2 separate regions of the Homo sapiens genome follow, and region 2 is linked to region 1. Evidence: fine-mapped expression QTL. A gene starts in region 1. The other region holds a variant in brackets. All regions are shown on one strand. Distances are between the middles of the regions. Region 1 holds the start of ZNF568 (zinc finger protein 568). Region 2 overlaps ZNF829 (zinc finger protein 829).

The links. PIP is the estimated chance that this variant, and not a neighbour inherited with it, causes the effect.
Region 2: its variant is fine-mapped to the expression of ZNF568 in sigmoid colon (GTEx, PIP 0.95).

What each region holds. Positions count from the first base shown.
Region 1 is chr19:36,914,161-36,919,545 of GRCh38, reverse strand. It overlaps ZNF568 (zinc finger protein 568), which reads right to left and starts at 3,214. Exons shown (of 7, transcript NM_198539.4): 1 at 2,955-3,214; 2 at 1,898-1,967. ZNF829 (zinc finger protein 829) reads left to right here and starts at 3,255. Exons shown (of 6, transcript NM_001037232.4): 1 at 3,255-3,535; 2 at 4,295-4,416; 3 at 4,524-4,581. The coding sequence starts at 4,379. RefSeq lists enhancers at 3,130-3,509, 3,570-3,619.
Region 2 is chr19:36,892,464-36,897,848 of GRCh38, reverse strand. It overlaps ZNF829 (zinc finger protein 829), which reads left to right. Exons shown (of 6, transcript NM_001037232.4): 6 at 5,378-5,385. It also overlaps a transcript of ZNF345 not described here. Among named protein-coding and RNA genes, the nearest start is that of ZNF829, 21 kb to the left of the region's middle. RefSeq lists an enhancer at 5,223-5,385. The variant G/A (reference allele first, on the strand shown) is at 2,540.

The sequences.
Region 1 (5,385 bases):
ACTGTGCATGCGAGGGATATAGGTTGCTTGCTCCTTATAGGAATCTAATGCCTCATGATTTGAGGGACAACAGTTTCATCCTGAAACCATAACCCTCCCATCCCCCAGTCCCTGGAAAAATTGTCTTCCACAAAACCACTCCCTGGTGCCAAAAAGGCTGGGGACCACTGTCTTACAGGACCACTGTCATGTATGTATATAGTCCATACATATATGGCACATGACTATAATTTAGTTATATATACTGTCCACCCACCCCCCTCAACATAAACTCCATGAAAACAAGGACTTATTTTTGTCTGTTTTTGATATTCATAGTAGGTGCTCAAAAATATGCTGATAAAATGGTTCAGTCATTATCGAAAACACTATGACAATCAAAGATTAAAAACAGACATTACCACATGTATATATAAAAAACTGAAAGCAGGGACTCAGATAGTTGTATACCCATGTTTGTAGCAGTGTCACTTGCAATTGCCAAAAGGTAGAAGCAGCCCAAGTGTCCAATGATGAATAAATTGATAAACAAAATATTTATCCATATATGACATACTTATCATTCGGCCTTAAAAAAGGAGGAAATTCCAATACATGCTAACATGGATGAATCTTGAGGACGTTATGCTAAGTTAAATCAGGGTCACAAAAGCACAAACAACATATGATTCTGCTTATATGAAGTATTTAGAATAGTCAAATTCAGAGACAGAAAGTAGAATGGTAGATGCCATAGGCCGGGGGAAAGGGGGGTACAGAGTTATTGTTTGATAGGTACTGGGTTTCTGTTTTGCAAGAAGAAGAGTTCTCTGGCTGGATGGTGGTGACGGTACCATAACAATGTGAATGTACTTCATGCCACTGAACTGTACACTTATATATGGTTTAGATGGTAAATTCTATGTTGTGTATTTTACCACAATTAAATATACATGTGTGTATACATAGTTGGTCCTCCTTATCCACAGGTTCTGCATCCTCAGATTCAATCAGCCTCAGATAAAAAATACAGTTAGGCCTACTACAGTTGTGTCTGTACTGAACACGTACAGTACAGATTTTTTTCTCATTATTCCCTAAACAATAACGTGTAACAATGATTTACACAGCATTTACATTATATTAGGTATTACAAATAATCTAGAGATGATTTAATGTATAAAGAAGGATGTAGGGACTTGAGCATCTGTGGATTCTGGTATCCATGGGGGGTCTTGAAACCAACCCCTCCTGGATACGAACTGTATATAGAATAAATGAGCTACTACTACTAATTTGGGGATTTAAAACTAGAAGAGAATAGGCTGGGCATGGTGGCTTACGCCTGTAATCCCAGCACTTTGGGAGGCTGAGGTCGGCAAATCACGAGGTCAGGAGATCTACCATGGTGGCTAACATGGTGAAACCCTGTCTCTGCTAAAAATACAAAAAATCAGCCGGGCGTGGTGGCGCGTCTGTAGTCCCAGCTACTCGGGAGGCTGAGGCAGGAGAATCGCTTGAACTCGGGAGGCGGAGTTTGCAGTGAGCCGAGACCGTGCCACTGCACTCCAGCCTGGGTGACAGAGCGAGACTCCGTCTCAAAAAAACAAAACAAAACAACAACAACAACAAAAACTAGAAGAAAATAATATATGAGACAAGAATAACACAGAAATTGGTGGATATTTTGGAGTTCAAGTATTTTAAAGTCTTAAGGTTGAGTTTTGTTAAGCATGCATATTAAAAAAGGATAATAGCAGAAACCAACCTAGGGGAGAAAAAGGGATAAGGTGAATTTGCACAATAAAAAAAGATATATGTGCAACTATTATATGTCAATCAAAAATGTTTAAGGCGTAATAGAAAATAAAACATTTTTTATGAGCAATCATGATAAATGCCACTGAACTATACTCACCTATTAAAATAACAGTCAAACAAGATAAACGGATGTAAGCCCAGCAATATGCTCTTTACAAGACACAGATCTGAAACATAAAGACACAAGGGGGTTAGAAAATGAAATTCTTAAGAAATACAATAAAACTTGAAAAGCAATATTATCAGACAAAAGAGAACCCGGACTAAAAGGCATTCACCAGGATAAAGAGGTATGTTTCTTAAGGTGGTAGACTGGAATTTTAGTCCAATTCCTCACACCCTCTAATAGATTATTATTCATACTCTTTGCGAGGTAACTTTGCTCTCCAACTGTGGGCATAATTGATTTTAGGCTTAGCCATGTGACTTGCTCTGGTTGAGGCAATCTCTCTTGCGCTCTGGTGACCCATCAGGAGCAGAGCATGCCCTGGCAACAAATGTCCTTTTGGCCTGAGACCCTGAAAGAACACATGCGGCGCAGATCTTAACTCGTCACGCAGCCTATCCACTCAGCCAAGCCCCACCTAGATCAGCTGAACACAGTCAATGCGCAAGCCTGTGAACAGGAGAGTAAGGACTTGCTGTTGTATGGCATTGAGTTCAGGGGTGGTTTTTAGACATAATTATTATCATGGCAATAGCTAACTAACATACATAAAAGCAGCAAGTCATAAGATAATAATGAACCTGAAAAGTTCGCCAAGGAATAGTGGAAAATTACAAAGGGCCAAGGGCTACTAGGGTAAAAAAGACAGCAAAGAAGACTACAGAGGAGTGGCCAACAAGGAGGGAGGATCAGTAGAAAACAAATAAGTGTTTTTCAAGCCGTTACCAACTGTGCCAAATGCTACAGAAAAGCCAGCTCAAGACAAGAACTACTAGACATATTACAATCACGCACACTTCGCCACGTTCACACTCGCTACAGCCTTAATCATAATCACACACATATCACACATTTCATCATAATCCCGCGCAACCAAATATCACAATCACCCCATCAGATTATTCGTGCCGTCACACTCACACACACAACCACACACCCACACTAACTCCCATCACAGTTTTTTGTCCCATCAACTGCAACCACTCACCATTAGCGTACCCTGAGCACTCCCCACTGCCGCTACTCGGGACACTCTGGGCCTTAGAGGATCCGTGTCCCGTCAACCGCGAGTCCCTTGCTCGCCCCCTGCTGCGGGGACTCGGCAGCGTCACCTGCCGGAAACACCCGAATGTTCATCCCGCGCGCAGTTTCTGAGATGCTGGGTGAAGGCGACCCGCAGATAGGTCTGTGACAGACGCCTAAAGCGCCGAACCATCCCTCCGCGCCAGCGACGTTTCCGAGGACAACACCTCCCAGCAGGCCCCGCGGCCCCACTCAACTTCCGGCCAGAACACATCTGCTTTCCTGTGTGAGGGTGAGGCTTGGGCCGGGTTCCCCGGGAGGCTCATCTCCATTGCGCAGCGCTACGGCGACCCGCAACTCCGAGGCTCGGCTGGATGTTGAGAGTTGAGGGAGCAGCCGTTTCGGGTGGGCCCAGGCGAGGAGCTGACAGGAATCGGCGTGGGTCCCGCTCTGGACTACATTTCCCAGAGGGCCTGGTGGCCTGCCACTTTTCTCGCAGGAATTCGAACGTTTCGTCACTCCTGGCGGGACCCTTAGATCTGGGAGGTGAGATATTTTGGTCCCCAGGAGAACTGGCTCAGGTCTGCAAGTTCCCATCCGGGATGACTGGAAAGGGCTTAGGTGAGGATACCGAAGACCGATGGGGAGCTGGCGCCTTGGGCCCCTGCGGGCGGAGCGGCCTGAAAGGTGGAGGTTGTGTTTGGGAGGCCGAGGCAGGAGGATCACGAGGTCAAGAGATCGAGACCATCCTGGCCAACATGGTGAAACCCCATCTCTACTAAAAATACAAAAATTAGCTAGGCATGGTGGCGCGCGCCTGTAATCCCAGCTACTCGCAGGCTGAGGCAGGAGAATCACTTGAACCCGGGAGGCGGAGGTTGCAGTGAGCCGAGATCGCACCACTGCACTCCAGCCTGGCGACAGGGCAAGACTCTGTCCCCACCCCACCCCACCCCCCCAAAAAAAGAGGGGAGGTTGTGAAATTGTCTGGGAGATAATAACACTGCGGCTTATGTGCGGATATGGGATACCTGTCACTGTGGGGGTTGTGGCTGTGTGTTCCCGTGGTGATGTGTGATTGTGACTCTGCGACAGTGTGGGGTGCCTACGATTGTGCAGCTGTAATTGTGTGTTTCCTATGGTGTGTATGTGATTGTAACTGTGTTGCCGTGTGTGGCTCCTTGTGGGCAGGTGAGACGTGCATGTCGCCTTAAGTGTGACTGTCCCTAAATGTATGTGGCATTCTGTGTATGAGTATGGGGTCCTGTCAACTATGCGATTGTGACTCCAGAACTCTGTCTCTAGGAAACCTCTCTGAGGTCTGGTCAGATTCCAACCCTGGACAGCAGTGAACACAACCTTTCCCCTGAGCCACTGGAATTGGACAGAATGCCCCATTCTCCTCTGATCTCCATTCCTCATGTGTGGTGGGTAATGGGGCTGGGGAAGAACTCTTACTTGACTAATCTGGGTACCAAGAAAAACCTGGTGTCTCACAGTTACTCTTCCCTCTCCCAATTTTACCTTTCTCCAGGTGTCACCCAGAAGAGGAGGAAAGAATGCATGATGAACTTCTACAAGCAGTATCCAAGGTGTGTTGGGGTTTCCTCTTTTTCTTCTGAAAATTCTTGCTTAAAGGAATGTCATTTAATTATAGGTCCCTATAATTTTCCCATCACAGAAAAGGATGGTTGCTCCACTTATGCTTGCTGAATTTTCTTCTCAAATATTTATTCTGATTTAAAAATAAAAGGATGATTAATTTAGAGATCTCAAAAACACAGCATTACCAAGAAAAAATAAAATTTAGCCACTCAGATAACTAGGGTTAATATTTTAATGTATTTTCATTATTTGTCAAAAACCAAATTTTATTTCATTTACCATTTGATGTTCTACATTTTTGCAAAAAGAAGTGTCAGAAATATTCTCCCATGTCATCAAATGGTCTTGGGAAATACATTTTTGATGTTTGCAAAAACTATGATATACAAATCAGACATGCCAGACTTTTAAATCCTCATTTGAATATATATCTGTACTTATACCCGCCCACCCCCACAGGTTTGAATTTGGGTTTCCGTGATTAATAATAAAATTGAACATATTCCATATGTTTATTGGTTTTTAGTCATCTTTTGTGACATGTCAGTTCAAATCTTTACTCATTTTTCTCTTGGAATAGCTCTTATTGATTCGTATGAGTTATTTATGTAATCTGGATCTCAGTCCTTTATTGATTGTTTTCCTACTATTTGGACTATTTCATCATTTCCTGTAAGATGATTTTATGATAAGTTCTAATTTTTAAAAAGCTGAGTTTATCAATATTTTTTCTTTATGGTTAGTGCTTTTTGTATCTTTTTAAATAAATCCTTCCCTGTCCCAAGGTCATG
Region 2 (5,385 bases), 22 kb after region 1:
CTTTACTGATTTCATTGATCAGTTCCAAGAATTTCTGGTGGCATCTTTAGGTTTTTAAATATATGTAAGATCATGTCATCTGTAAAGGGACAGTGTGACTTTCTATTATCCAATCTGGATGCCTTTTATTTCTTTCTCTTGCCTGATTGCTCTGGATAGGACTTCCAGTACTATATTGAATAATAGTGGTGAATGTGGGCTTCTTTATCTTGTTCCAGTTCTTAGAGGAAAAGCTTTCGGCTTTTCCCCATTCAGTATGGTGTTAGCTGTACGTTTGTCATATATGGTCTTTATTATGTTATGTTTTTTAATGCCTAATCGTTGAGAGGTTTTTATAATGAAGAGACGTTGAAGTTTATCAGATGTTTCTCTGCATCTATTGAGCTGATCATATGGTTTTTATCCCTCATCCTGTTGATCTGATACATCATGTTTATTGATTTGCTTATGTTGAGCCATCCTTGCACTTTTCAGGAAAAATCTCACTTAATCGTTGTATATTATCTTGTTGTTGTATTATTGGATTTCATTTGCTAGTATTTCATTGAGGGGTTTTGTGTCTATGTTCATGAGGGATATCACCTCTTTTTGTTGTTGTTGTTGTGTCCTTCTCTGGTTTTGGTATCAGGGTAATGCTGGCCTTGTAGAATGGATTAGGAAGAATTAACTTCTCTTCCATTTTTTGGAATAGTTTGAGAAAAACTGAGGTTAGTTATTTGTAATTTTGGTAGGATTCAGCAGTAAAGCCCTTTAGTCTTGGGCTTTTTTTGTTGGGAGACATTTTACTATTGCTTCAATCTCATTACTCGTTATTGGTCTGCTCAGGTTCTTCTGCTCTGTTTCTTCCTGGTTCAGTCTTGGTAGGTTTTCATGTATCCAGGAATTTTTCTGTTTCCTCTAGGTTATCTGATTTGTTAGCATATAGTTGCCTGTAGTAGTCTTTGATGATCTTTAATTTCTTAATTGACCCAATGGGCATTCATGAGCAAGCACATTGTTTAAATTTCCATTTATTTGTGTGGTTTACAAAGTTTTTGTTATTGATTTCTAGTTTTATTCTAGTGTAGTCTGAGAAGATACTTGATATGATTTCAATTTTTAAAAATTAGTTATAACTTGTCTTATGGCCTAACGTATGGTCTCTTCCTGGAGGATGTTCCATGTGCTGATAGGAACAATGTGTATTCTGCAGCTGTTGGATAAAATGTTCAGTTAGTGTCTGGTAGGTCCATTTGGTCTAATATCCAGTTTAAATCCAAAGCTGTTGATTTTCTATCTAGATGAACTGTCTAATGCTGAGAGTGGGATGTTCAAATCCCGTACTATTATTTTATGGGAGTCTACCTTTTTTTGTTGTTGTTTTTTTGAGACAGAGTCTAGTTCCGTCGCCCAGGCTGGAGTGCAGTGGCACAATATTGGCTCACTGCAACCTCTGCCTCCCAGGTTCAAGCAATTCTCCTGCCTCAGCCTCCTGAGTAGCTCGGATTACAGGTGCATGCCACCACGCCCAGCTAATTTTTTTTTCTTTCTTTTTTTTTTTTTGACAGTCTTGCTCTGTCACCCAAGCTGGAGTGCAGTGGTGCGAACCCGGCTCACTTCAGGCTCCGTCTCCCAGGTTCACACCATTCTCCTGCCTCAGCCTCCCGAGTAGGTGGGACTACAGGTGCCTGCCACCATGCCTGGCTAATTTTTTGTATTTTTAGTAGAGACGAGGTTTCACCATGTTAGCCAGGATGGTCTCAATCTCCTGACCTCGTGATCTGCCTGCCTCAGCCTCCCAAAGTGCTGGGATTACAGGCATGAGCCACCGCGCCTGGCCACACCCAGCTAATTTTTGTATTTTTAGTAGAGACAGGGTTTCGTCATGTTGGGAAGGCTGGTCTCGAACTCCTGACCTCAAGTGATCCTCCCGCCTTGGCCTCCCAAAGTGTTGGGATTACAGGCATGAGCCACCATGCCCAGCCCTATCTCTCTTTTTAGATCTAATAATATTTGCTTATATATCTGGGTGCTGCAGTGTTGAGTGCCTATAAATTTAGAACTTTATATCCTCTGGCTGAATTGACCCATTTATCATTATATAATGACCTTCTTTGCTTCTTTTGCAGTTTTTTACTTAATGTCTGTTTTATTTAAGTATGGCTACTCTCACTTGCTTTTGGTTTGTTTGTGTGCAGTATTTTTTTTTCATCTCTTCACTTTCAGTCTATGATTTTATATATAAAGTGAGTTTCTCACAGCCAGTATATAGGTGAGTCATATTTATTTTATCCATTCAACCAGACTGTATCTTTTAAGTGGGGAATTTGACTGTTTACATTCAAGGTTATTATTAATAGGTGAGGATTTATTCCTAATCTGTTAATTTTTTATGGTTGTTTTATATCCTTTTTCTTTCCTCTTATCATTTGGTTTGGTGGTTTTATGTAATGGTTACATCTGAGTCCTTTCTCTTTCCATTTGTGTATCTGCTCTACCAGTGAGCTTCTTATTTTCATTTGTTTAATGATGGTAGATATGTCTTTTACTTCCAGATGTA[G/A]GACACCCTTTGCCATTTTTGATCGGGCCACCCTAGTTGTGATACATTTTCTCTGGGAAAAACTTTCTCCTTCATTTTTGAAGGATGGCTTTGCTAGGTACAGTATTCTTGGCTGACAGTGTTTTTTTAGCACTTTGAATATATCATCCCATTCTTTCCTGGCATGGAAGGTTTCTGCCAAGGTATCTGCTACTAGTTCTGATGAGGGTTCCCTTGTATGTGACTTGACGCCTGAGGGTTCCCTTATATGTGACTTGATGCCTTTCTCTTGCTTTTTTTAGAATTCTCTGTCTTTGACTTTTGACAGTTTGACTGTAATGGGCCTTGGAAAACCTTTTTGGATTGAATCTATTTGGGCATCATTGAGCCTTCTGTATCAGGATGTCTATATTGCTTACAAGACTTGGAAAGTTTTCAGTTATTTTGTTAAATAGGTTTTTATGCCTTTGCCCATCTCTTCTCCTAGAATACCCAAAATTTGAATATTTGGTTGCTTTATGATGTCCCATATGTCATCTAAGCTTTTTTCAGTTTTAAAAATTATTATTTTTTACTTTTTCTTCCTGGATTCTTTTAAAAAACCCTGTCCTCAAGTTCAGAAATTCTTTCTTCTGCTTGATCTAGTCTATTGTTGAAGCTCTCAATTGTGTTTTTTATTTCATTCATTGAAATTTGTCAGTTTCAGGACTTCTGTTTGGTTCTTTTTCATGATATCTATCTGCTGAATTTCTCATTCAGATCATGAATTGTTTTTTCTGATTCTTTTGGTTTTTATCCATGTTCTATTGTTTCCCACTGAGCTTCTTTAATATCATTATTTTGAATTCTTTTTCAGGCACTTGATAGATTTCTTGTTTGTTGGAATCTGTTGCTGGAGCATTATTGTATTACTTTGGAGATGTCATGGTTCCATGCTTTTTCGTGTTTCTTTTATCCTTACATTGATATCTGTGTATTTCTTGTTATGGTCATTTTTTCCAATTTTATGGATTTGTTTTCATAAGGAAAACCTTTTTCCTGTAGATGTATTTATAGTGTTGGTTGGGTAGGTTGCTTTGGCTTTGTTATAGGTGGATGCAGTGGTATAATCTCCATATGATTTCTCTGGCTGCAATCAGTGTCAGCAGTGTCTGTGAGTTCCTCAGTGGCTTAGGGCTTGGTTGTTAGTGGAAGCTGTGATGAGGCTTTTCTCATTGTTAGCAGGGCCAACAATGGTGATAGGATGAGGGGTATGCCAGGTAAAGGGGAGATCCATGTGGGAAGGCCCTGAGGGGCAGGGAGAACTTGAGGTGCTTGAAGGACTGGGGCTTCTTGAGCAAGTGGAAGTGGAGTATAACACAAGGTTGTAGAGGTAGGCAAGAGCCTCATTATTGGAGTCTTCTTGGTAATTACCAAGGAGTTTAGATTTTCAGGAGGGCAAAGTGAGACCAAATATCACACCAGGTGCTGAATGGATTAGAGGGTGCTAGAACATACTGGGGAAACCATTAGGAGATTCCTGTAGTGGTCTAGGAAAGAGGGGATTCAGTAATTAAATGAGGACAACTTTAAGAGATTTTTAGGGACTCACCCAGACTAAGTTTGGCCAATGATTGTGTGGAGGGAATACTTAAGATAGTCTAGCTGGCTTTATTTTGATGTCTTCAAGCCATTTTATTTGCCCAATATCTGTTTTTGCTATGACATTTTTTCATAATAATAGCTACCAATACTGAGTGCTTACTTTATATCAGATTATTTATATACGTTATTCCTCATCTTTTTAGCAATCATAAGTTAAGTGTCAGTCCCATTTTAATAAACAAGGAAAAGAGGGCTCAGAGGTTGCCTTAAAGCATAGAACTGGGGCTCACTGTTTATATGTTGACATGGAGTTCCATTCTTCTCATAGAGTACATTTCATCCTATCTTAACTCTCTTGTGTCTCAAACTTGAGCCACCTTCCTTCTCAATCACTGCTATGACTTGAATTATTCATTTCTTTCTCCCAAGGTCAACATCACAGAATTCCAGAGCAAATTATTTTCAGTGAGTTCCTAGCCCATATCATGCTGTATGCACAGAAGAGATGTACCTGTCTACTCTTCCCACCAGTTGTGTTCAGCATATTAGATTTGTCGGAGGCTGGTGATTTGCCAGTATACCATTGCACAGTCACTGAACTCCACCCGCCCCCGACATTTAAACCTTTCAACACATTTGTTATTCTTAACAGTCCTTTCATGTAGGTCTGACAGTTATCTACGAATTGCAAAACATACAGTATCATACTCTGTGCATGTGAGCATATGTTTATGAACGTGTATATAATTAGAATATCTCACGCATGGTGCATGCCCTGGAGCAGAAGCGGCATCCTGCTGGCCTGTCCTCCTCCATGGCCCTCCAGCTTAACCCCTGCCTGGGCATGCTGATGGCCTTGCAGTCGGAGCTCCACAAGCTGTACGACGAGGAGACACAGAGCTGGGTCTCAGGCAGCGCCTGTGGGGGATCTGGGGTGGGGGCAAAAAAAATTTTTTTTTTTTAATTAGAATCTCTCTATAATATGGAGGATGGTGCTGAACACTGTGTATTCACCAAGGCTTAAGGTGACTCTGGTTCAGACCAAAATTTGAGGATCATAGAGGTCATCTACTTTCTGAATCCACATCCTCAGCTTCTTTTATTACCTCTCCTAATGTCTGTGCTTTTCTTGTCAGTTTTACAGATTGCCTCTCCACCTTTGAAAACTGTGTAATTTCTCAGATATTCTTTTCAGTTTAATTCTCCCATTTCTTTTTTAGAAGTTTTAACTTGCCCAGAATAGGAAAATTTATTTGCCTTTGTATTTTCTTTCAGATCTGGAA